Linked DNA regions of Homo sapiens: region 2 is linked to region 1. Evidence: fine-mapped expression QTL. A gene starts in region 1. The other region holds a variant in brackets. All regions are shown on one strand. Distances are between the middles of the regions. Region 1 holds the start of SLC2A1 (solute carrier family 2 member 1). Region 2 overlaps SLC2A1 (solute carrier family 2 member 1).

Evidence for each region. PIP is the estimated chance that this variant, and not a neighbour inherited with it, causes the effect.
Region 2: its variant is the best candidate, but not a certain one, in a credible set for the expression of SLC2A1 in whole blood (INTERVAL, PIP 0.66).

What each region holds. Positions count from the first base shown.
Region 1 is chr1:42,956,739-42,961,238 of GRCh38, forward strand. It overlaps SLC2A1 (solute carrier family 2 member 1), which reads right to left and starts at 2,130. Exons shown (of 10, transcript NM_006516.4): 1 at 1,896-2,130. The coding sequence starts at 1,913. SLC2A1-DT (SLC2A1 divergent transcript) reads left to right here and starts at 2,311. Exons shown (of 4, transcript NR_033967.1): 1 at 2,311-2,839. RefSeq lists silencers at 1,251-1,890, 2,021-2,430, 2,303-2,486.
Region 2 is chr1:42,928,361-42,932,603 of GRCh38, forward strand. SLC2A1 (solute carrier family 2 member 1) reads right to left here. Exons shown (of 10, transcript NM_006516.4): 3 at 2,686-2,846; 4 at 2,266-2,506; 5 at 1,513-1,675; 6 at 1,233-1,420; 7 at 850-954; 8 at 572-673. Among named protein-coding and RNA genes, the nearest start is that of SLC2A1, 28 kb to the right of the region's middle. RefSeq lists enhancers at 225-867, 868-1,508, 3,779-3,948. The variant G/A (reference allele first, on the strand shown) is at 2,383.

The DNA.
Region 1 (4,500 bases):
GGCACAAGGGGCCACCTTTGAAGATAGGCAAACTCTCTCCCTTCTGCCCAAAATTCAAGAAATGTTGTGGTGAAGAGAGACAGTGGAGACAGAAATGAAATTAAATCTGATGGGCCTGGGTTCAAATCCAGTTCAACCACTTACTAGCTGTGTGACTTTGGCAAACTTATTTCCCTTCTCTGAGCTCCAGGCTAGTGAGTAACCAGCAGGGCTATAAGGTCCGTGACGCTTAAAGTAGTTTGGCTAAGAACCTGCTGATTTTCTCCTCCACTTTTCTGTCTCCACGTAGTATTCCCTTATCCACTCAACAAATAAATACCCATGTCTGGCATAGTATGCTGAATAGATAGTTCCTTCCCTAGAGGAAGTGACAAAAGTGATCTCTTTCAGATGGAAAAACTGAGGCCCAGAAGTTAAGTGGCCTGCAAGAGCCCTGAGATATTTGGACTTCCTTGCCACTAGCTAGAAGAGCTTCTCACTGAACTTTTGTTTAGTTATATCCCACCCTTACGGCTCACCTAAGATCCTGGGAGCCTTCCCCGGGAACTTCCCCGGGGTCTCACCTCAAGCGAGGGCCCAGGAAGGGTGAACCAAGTCGTCTGGATTTATGGATTCAACAGGTGTGGGGCGGAAGGCCTTTTCCTGCCGAGGGTGCGGCCCAGCGCCACCCCGCTCAGTCTCAGCGGGACACCTCCACAGCCAGTAGGAAGGGCAGTTCAAAATTCAGTGCTACCCCCGCGTCCCAGCTAAGAAAACAAGGGCCATCCAGGTGCCCTCCCAGCTGACGAGATGGAAAAATCAAAGTATAATAGATAAAGAGGGACCGTTTCAAAAGAAAAAGGGGACTTGAAAATATTGTAGACTAGGGGGAGGAAAGGAGGTGGAAAGAAACAATGCCCTACACACAGGAGGGGCTCCACAAACAATTTGTTGAAAAGAAATCGCTCTGCGGACGCTACAAAGATGCCCTGCAGGACAAGCCCACTTACACAGAAAAAAAGAAATCCTATCTAGGGAGTTGTTGGTCCCCAGAGTCCCCATCCCTCATTCCCCAACCCCGTGGCGTGCGCGCTTCCCGCTAGACTTCAGCCTGGGGCTCTTTCCTGGCCCCCAGATCCCCCGCCCCTCCGGTTGCGCTCCCCGCCTGGCCCCGAGGGTAAACCTGCCTCCGCGGAACACATCTCCGCGAGACTGGGCCAAAGCTTTGGGGCCTGCACTCCTCGCAAAGGAGAGCCTCCGAGACCGGAGGTTCATCTCAACCCCCGCGTTCGAGCCCGGGCCTGGAGAAAAGTGCCCTCCCCTCGGCCTCGGCCTCGTCACCGCGGGGGACTGGCGGGAGGAGTAGGGGAGGCCGGTGGGACACCTCGCACCAGGCCGCCCACCTACAGGGGCGTCCGGGCTAGGGGAGCAGACGGAGAGCGGGGGCGGCTCCTGACTCCTCCGCGCGCCGGGGCCGGGGCCGGGCCGGGGGCTCGGCCCGCTCAGCCAATGGGCGCCGCGCTCGGGCCCCCTCCCCCGCACCGGGAGGGGCCGAGGCTGGGCTGCTGCTGCCGAGGTCGTGTGCGACGTGCCGCTCCCGGGCCCTGTGTCCCCAGCCCCAGCAGGGCCGCGTGGACGGCGCGGCGCCCCCGGAAGGAGGCCATGTGCTCAGTGCCGGCGCCAACTACGCACGCGGCGCCCTCCGGCCCGCTAGATCCGAAGCCCATCCCCACTGCGGCCAGCGGCCCGGCGGGGCGCTGCGCTCGGGACCCGCACCGAGCCAGGCTCGGAGAGGCGCGCGGCCCGCCCCGGGCGCACAGCGCAGCGGGGCGGCGGGGGAGGCCCTGGCCGGCGTAAGGCGGGCAGGAGTCTGCGCCTTTGTTCCTGGCGGGAGGGCCCGCGGGCGCGCGACTCACCTTGCTGCTGGGCTCCATGGCAGCGCTGCGCTGGTGGCTCTGGCTGCGCCGGGTACGCGGGTGGCGACGGGCGTGCGAGCGGCGCTCTCCCGCTCAGGCTCGTGCTCCGGTCCGGGGACTCCCACTGCGACTCTGACTCCGACCCCCGTCGTTTGGTCTCCTGCTCCCTGGCGTGCTCACTCGGGGACCCGCGACTAGCGACCGGCACGCTCGCTGTTGCTACCTCTTGCCTCTTGCCAGAGAGCGCGCGGACCGTAGCGTTTATAGGACCCCGGCCATTGGCTGGCGACGCCGGTGTGTCAGGGGTGTGTGGGCAGGACCTCGGGGCGGGGCCTGGGGCCCAGCCTGTCCTGGGCGGCGCTCTGCGGGGAGGGGGTGAGGGGAGTGGCCGGGGCCGGGGCCCCCCCTAACCACTGCCTCGCTCAGGCTGCCGATCGGCTCGTTCTCTCTGCGTTGGGACCGCGGAGGGCATTCGCTGTGTGACTCAGGGCAAGTGTGCGCACCTCTCTGAGCCTCCGCGGCCTTCTCTAGCAAAATGGTGGAGCCGGTACCCGGCTGTAAGGCAAGCTGGGATGCGCGGAGTAGCGGGTGGAAAGCTGGACTGGAGTTCTCACTCGGCCGCTGGGTGACTTCGGTGCACTAGGGATAGTAACAGTACCACCTCGTAGGGTTGTAGAAAGACCAAGTGAGTTAATATTTGTAAAGTGTTTAGAACAGCGTCTACTGCATGGAAAGTAGTATTTATTTGTTAGAGAGACTCCAGGAGGTCTTGCCCAGGGATTGACTTCTCCCTTCCCTGTCTCCACCCCCCACATTCCCGTTTGTGAGCCAAGCCTTGCTTTTGCACCGGCCGGGCTCTCTTGCCTGGAAATGCATACCCATCTCAAACCTGGGCTTTAAAATCACCTCCTCTGGGACGCCTTCCTCTACTTCTCACAGTTCAGGTGAGTCTATGGTGACCTGTAAGTGTGGAAAATATGAAAGGCAGGCTAACTGACTGACATGATAGGACATTAAGGACATGATAGACCTCGGGTTTGAACCAGCTCAACTGTATACTGGCCCGGCCGCGATCCTGGGCGAGTTCCTGGCCAGTGAGGCTGTTTTCGTTTTTTTCTTTAATTTTTTTTTTTCTCAGACAGAGTCTCGCTCTGTCGCCCAGGCTGGAGTGCAGCGGCACGATCTCGGCTCACTGTAACCTCCGCCTCCCGGATTCAAGCAGTTCTCTGCCTCAGCCTCCCGAGTAGCTGGGATTACAGGCGCCCGCTATCACCCCTGGCTAATTATTTTTATTTTTAGTAGAGACGGGGTTTCACCATTTTGGCCAGGCTGGTCTTGAACTCTTGACCTCGTGATCCACCCACCTCGCCTCCCAAAGTACTGGGATTACAGGCGTGAGCCACTGAGCCCGGCCGAGGCTGTCTTCTTATGAGTAAATGGAATTCCCACACCAATCTCATTGCTATCAGGAGAGGTGCAATTTCCAGATAAGCTCATGAAGTGTTTAGCATGGAAGTTCTCATTTACTGGTTGGTGGTATTGTTGGTTTATTTATTTAGTCTGTTAGTAAATAAATAAATGCTGGTCTCAAACTCCTGGGCTCAAGTGATCCTCCCACCTTAGCCTCCGTAGTAGCTGGGAGTGCAGGCATGTGCCACTGCACTGGTAGTGGTATTGCTATCATCTGACTTCACCTTATTTCCTCTAGACCAGTGCCTTACTTGAGACACAGTGAAGGGAAGGACCCCCAGTCCAAAGGTCTGATCAAAGTCTTGAGGGTCCCTTTCCCGATGGAGGGAGTCATGGTGGGCTTACTGTCTGTCGGAAACCGGGAGGCTGAGCCGACCAGATGACCCCTGGAGTTCTCTGGCAATGTGTCCAGTTCTGGCTGAGGGGCACCTTGGTTGAGTATGGAGCCCTGAAACAGAAGGCAGGTGCATTCTGGGCACCCCCCTGCCCAAGGCTTCAATTCCTGTGGTCTCTCTATGCTCAGCCTGGAAAGCTTGGGCCACCTCTCTCCTCACCCCTGGACAGACCAAGTCCTGCTGACTCCGCTGTCTACACCACCTCATCCTCCTTCCCTCCCCTGCTGTCTGCAGGGCCTCCATCTCCTCTGGTCTTTTGTCCTCCAGTCCTGCACCCTGCCACTCTCCTGCTCATCTGTCTGAAATTGTCATGGAGGGAGTAAGGGCCAAGCCTGGCCATCACGGTCCTTCTTCATGGCACCAGTTTACACGCTCAGCCTCGCCCCTCACACCAGCAACTCACATCCACACATTTGCTCAGCTTGTCTCCTCTGCCTGGGAAGCCCTCCCCGACCTCACCATGCCAAAAAGCACCATGGGTCCTTCCTCCTCCGGGAAGTGTCCCTGGTTCTCCCAAGTGGAAATCTTTCTCTCCTTTACCATTTGGTGTTTTGTAGGTTGCCACTTGTCCTCTGTCTGCCTTCCCTCAGCCTGTGAGCACCTTGAGGACAGGTTCTGCAGCTGAGGCACGTGGGTGAATGACTGAAGGAGGGAAGGAATGCACGAATGAGTGAGCAGCTAATCTACCTGTGTTGAATGTTCCTTCCCCTCCAGTCCGTCCTGCTGATACTTCCAGTCTT
Region 2 (4,243 bases), 29 kb before region 1:
CTAAATAAACGAGTGCCTGTGTGTGAGTGCCAGGCACAGGGTTAGCACAGCGGTCACAGTCACAGGCCTGGGACTGAGGTTGATTCCTGGCTTCATCCTTTATCTGACAAGTTACTAACCTCACTGGGACTTAAGCTTCCTCCCCCATAAAATGGGAAGAACTGAACTACACCTCCAGTCGTGTGAACTGAATGAGGCAAGGCATGTTTCTGCGCCTCTATGGGGAGGACAGCACTACTTCCCGGGGTTGCTGTGAAGATGAATTGAGGCTACAGATGAAGATTGGAAAGGGTTAATATTAGGCAAAGCAATTCCTTAAGGAGGTGAGAGTTTGGGGTCTGGGACCAGAGGTGCTGCGCTGAGAATCCATCAAGCAGGGAGGAGCAAGTTCAAGAGAGGATGTGTGTGGTTTGGAAGGAGACAACTTCAGGAGCCAGAAAGTCAGACCCACAGCCAGGGAGAATGCAGCCACCAAAAGGCCTGCCAGCCTGGGGCTGAGACAGGCATTTTGGGATATGAAGCCCAGGCAAACTCTCCCGCATCCCTCACTCTCCAGAACCTAGCAACTCACCAGCAGTGCTAGCGCGATGGTCATGAGTATGGCACAACCCGCCATGCCAGCGAGGCCTATGAGGTGCAGGGTCCGCCGGCCTGCTCGCTCCACCACAAACAGCTGTGGGCAGAGACAGTGTCAGTGCCACCCCTGCCTAGTGCCCTTCTGAACCCACCCACCCAGAGGCCTTGCCTCAAGAGCTGAGAAAGTCACAGGGCACTGCAAAGACCAGTGGGGAAGATGGCACTGCCTCCTCCCTGGGGTTTGGCTGGGGGGGCCAGTAAGCAAAGACTCACCGACACGACAGTGAAGGCCGTGTTGACGATACCGGAGCCAATGGTGGCATACACAGGCTGCTGCACCCCCGCCTTCTCGAAGATGCTCGTGGAGTAATAGAAGACCTGCCAGACAAGAGAAACTGTTGGGGCCTACCTGGACATTGTGGCCCTTCCCTGCCTCTGTAGCAGTGGATGTGGGACCCAGGATGAGTAAAGAATGAAGGGGACAAATACTCAGGCAGAAGGGACACTGCACTGCAGTGACCTTACGGGCTTGGGGTCTAAAGGGAAACTTCTTCGGCAGAGGCGTATCTGTTGTTTCAAGTTTGGGACTTGTTCACCATGCACACTTGACCAGAGGGCTTGGCTGGGGCACAGGAAGGGTGGGTGGGGGCACTCACAGCGTTGATGCCAGACAGCTGCTGGGACAGCTGCAGCACCACAGCGATGAGGATGGGCTGGCGGTAGGCGGGGGAGCGGAACAGCTCCAGGATGGTGACCTTCTTCTCCCGCATCATCTGCCGACTCTCTTCCTTCATCTCCTGCAGGTCATGGGTCACGTCAGCTGTCCCGCGCAGCTTCTTTAGCACTGGGGGGACCGGAGGGAAGGTGAGGGTGGCTCAGAGTGGGAAGAAGGCCAGGGCTCAGGGAGTGGGGAGGAGGGCAGGGCCATGCCCGTACCACTCTTGGCCCGGTTCTCCTCGTTGCGGTTGATGAGCAGGAAGCGGGGACTCTCGGGGCAGAAGGGCAGCACGATGCACTGCAGCAGGGCCGGGATGAAGATGATGCTCAGCAGCAGGGGCCACAGGTCCTTGTTGCCCATGATGGAGTCCAGGCCGAACACCTGGGGGAAGCAGGGGCCGTGAGCGCCTCTGCCCTGACCCCCTTTCCCACCCCGTCCTGCCAGAGTGGCCTTCCCTACTTTGTGTCAGCTGCTGCTTCAGGGAAGGGCCCCAGTTCTAGAGGCTCTGCCACTAGCATGAGCCCTGTTTCTCAGTTTCCTCATCGGTCACATGGGAAAAGTAGGACCTACCCCACAGTGTTGCTGGGAGGACAAATGACAAGGCCACAGATGTGTCCAGCACAGAGAATGGGGGCTGCTACTCTGCCACAAGAGGGTTTTGGGGACAGGGAAGGGGAAGCCTCCTGGAGAGAGGGTACTGTGCATAACAGCCTGCGGCATGTTGGGGGAAGGCGGGCCCTGTGGTTGGAAGCCTAGAGTGAGAAGAAAGGGACTGAGAAGAGTCAAGTCATCTTGCTGTCAACTGGGAGGCCATGGTGCTGTGTTCTCTGGACCTGTGTACCATAGTTGTCCTCTGCAAGGCTGTGGGGGCTGGGCGGAAGAGAAACTCTGCCCTGCTGGGCACAGATCCGAGAGCCACTGAAGCTGTGGGCAGGGGCCGTGCCAGGCAGGTAGATCCTGCCCCAGCTTACCTGGGCGATGAGGATGCCGACGACGATGCCCAGCTGGTGCAGGGTGCCCAGGGCCCCACGAAGGGCTGTGGGTGACACTTCACCCACATACATGGGCACGAAGCCTGTGGTCAGGCC[G/A]CAGTACACACCGATGATGAAGCGGCCCAGGATCAGCATCTCAAAGGACTTGCCCAGTTTCGAGAAGCCCATGAGCACGGCGGACACGAAGGCCAGCAGGTTCATCATCAGCATTGAATTCCGCCTGGGGACGGGGTCACAGGTCAGGCCAGTGCCCACATTCCTTGGGCTCCGAGGGGCTGGGTCAGAGGTAATACCCTGGAACAGGCAGATAAGTCTCCCCTACCTCCCACCCCATCTGGGACTCCCTGGGCAGGAGGGCATGGGCCCTCCAAGGGCAGTGCCAGGACCTCTCCTACTTACCGGCCAAAGCGGTTAACGAAAAGGCCCACAGAGAAGGAGCCAATCATGCCCCCAACAGAAAAGATGGCCACTGAGAGGGACCAGAGCGTGGTGAGCGTGGTGGGCAGGATGCTCTCCCCATAGCGGTGGACCCATGTCTGGTTGTAGAACTCCTCGATCACCTGCAGGGGGAGATGCAGCCTGGGTGAGCAAGCCAGGGGCCAGGACCCAGTCTTCCTTTTCCTTTCCCCTTGCACCCCTCCCTAAGAGAGGGCCAGGGCCTGGCTCTGCCACAGATTCACTGCATGTTCTTGAGCCAAGTCCCTCTATTTTTGTGGGCCTCACTTTCCCCAGGCGAGAAACAAGGGGTTGGAGTTCATCTGAGAGCCCCGCCAACTCTCCCACTTCCCCTAACGTGTGGTTTCCAGTGCCCTGTGGTTTCACAGGCTCAGTGTGACTTGCTGGGATGATGGCAAGTGATCAGTGGTGGAAGTTCAGGCATAGAACAGAGAGGTACAAGACCAGGTGTGGTGGCTCACGCCTGTAATCCCAGCACTTTGGGAGATCAAGGCAAGCAGATCACTGGAGATCAGGAGTTCGAGACCAGCCAGACCAACATGGTGAAACCCTATCTCTACTAAAAATAAAAAAAAAATTAGCTGGACGTGGTGGCGCAAGCATGTAATCCCAGCTACACGGGAGGCTAAGGCAGAATTGCTTAAACCCAGGACACGGAGTTTGCAGTGAGCCAAGACTGTGCCACTGCACTTCAGCCTGAGTGACAGAGTGAGACTCTATGTCTCAAAAAAAAAAAAAAAAAAAGAGAAATACAGAAGGAAAAGGGTCTTCCCACTTGCCCCTTTTCTCCTCACCATGTCTCAAAGCCCCAGGGGCCCATCTCCTGCCATCAGGCCCTCCCCCCAACCCCTTGCTGGGGAGGAAGCAGGGCTTGACAGACAGGTTCCGCCATCCAGGAAGTACAGACTCCCTGACCGCACTGAGGGCCTGGTGTGACAAACTCACACATGTCACCCTTCAGAAGTGCTTGAAAGACTCACGCTGTGGCTTTCTGTTCCCCAGGCCTAGCTCCCTTGTGTCTGGCCTGCGAGCACCCCCTTGAAGGACCCACGGCCTCCTCCCCTCTCCCAAGGGCCCAGCTAGGAGGTATGGGGAAAGGTTCCACACAAGGAAGCAGTTCCAGGAACTGGAAACGCCCGTCCTAGGGCAGCCCTGCCCACCAGCCCTGCCCCCACCCTGGCCAGCTCCCACGGATGTGGTAGGCAGGCAGCACCCGTTCTGCCTGAGCACACTCACCACACTCTCAGTGCCATGGGACTGGCCAGACCCACCCAGCCACACGTATAGCAGAGTGCAGGCCCTAGTTACCCAGAAACGGCTTCTTATGCACGTATACCATCACACACACATACCCGTGCTCATAGAATCTAAATATTCCTGCTTTAGCCAGTCACAAACTCACATGCCCCTCATCCCCTACCACTTACAGCTCAAACTCAATTCCATGTGAACCCAACCCATCCCAACACCCCTCCGTGTGTGTGCATGCCACAGGTTCATG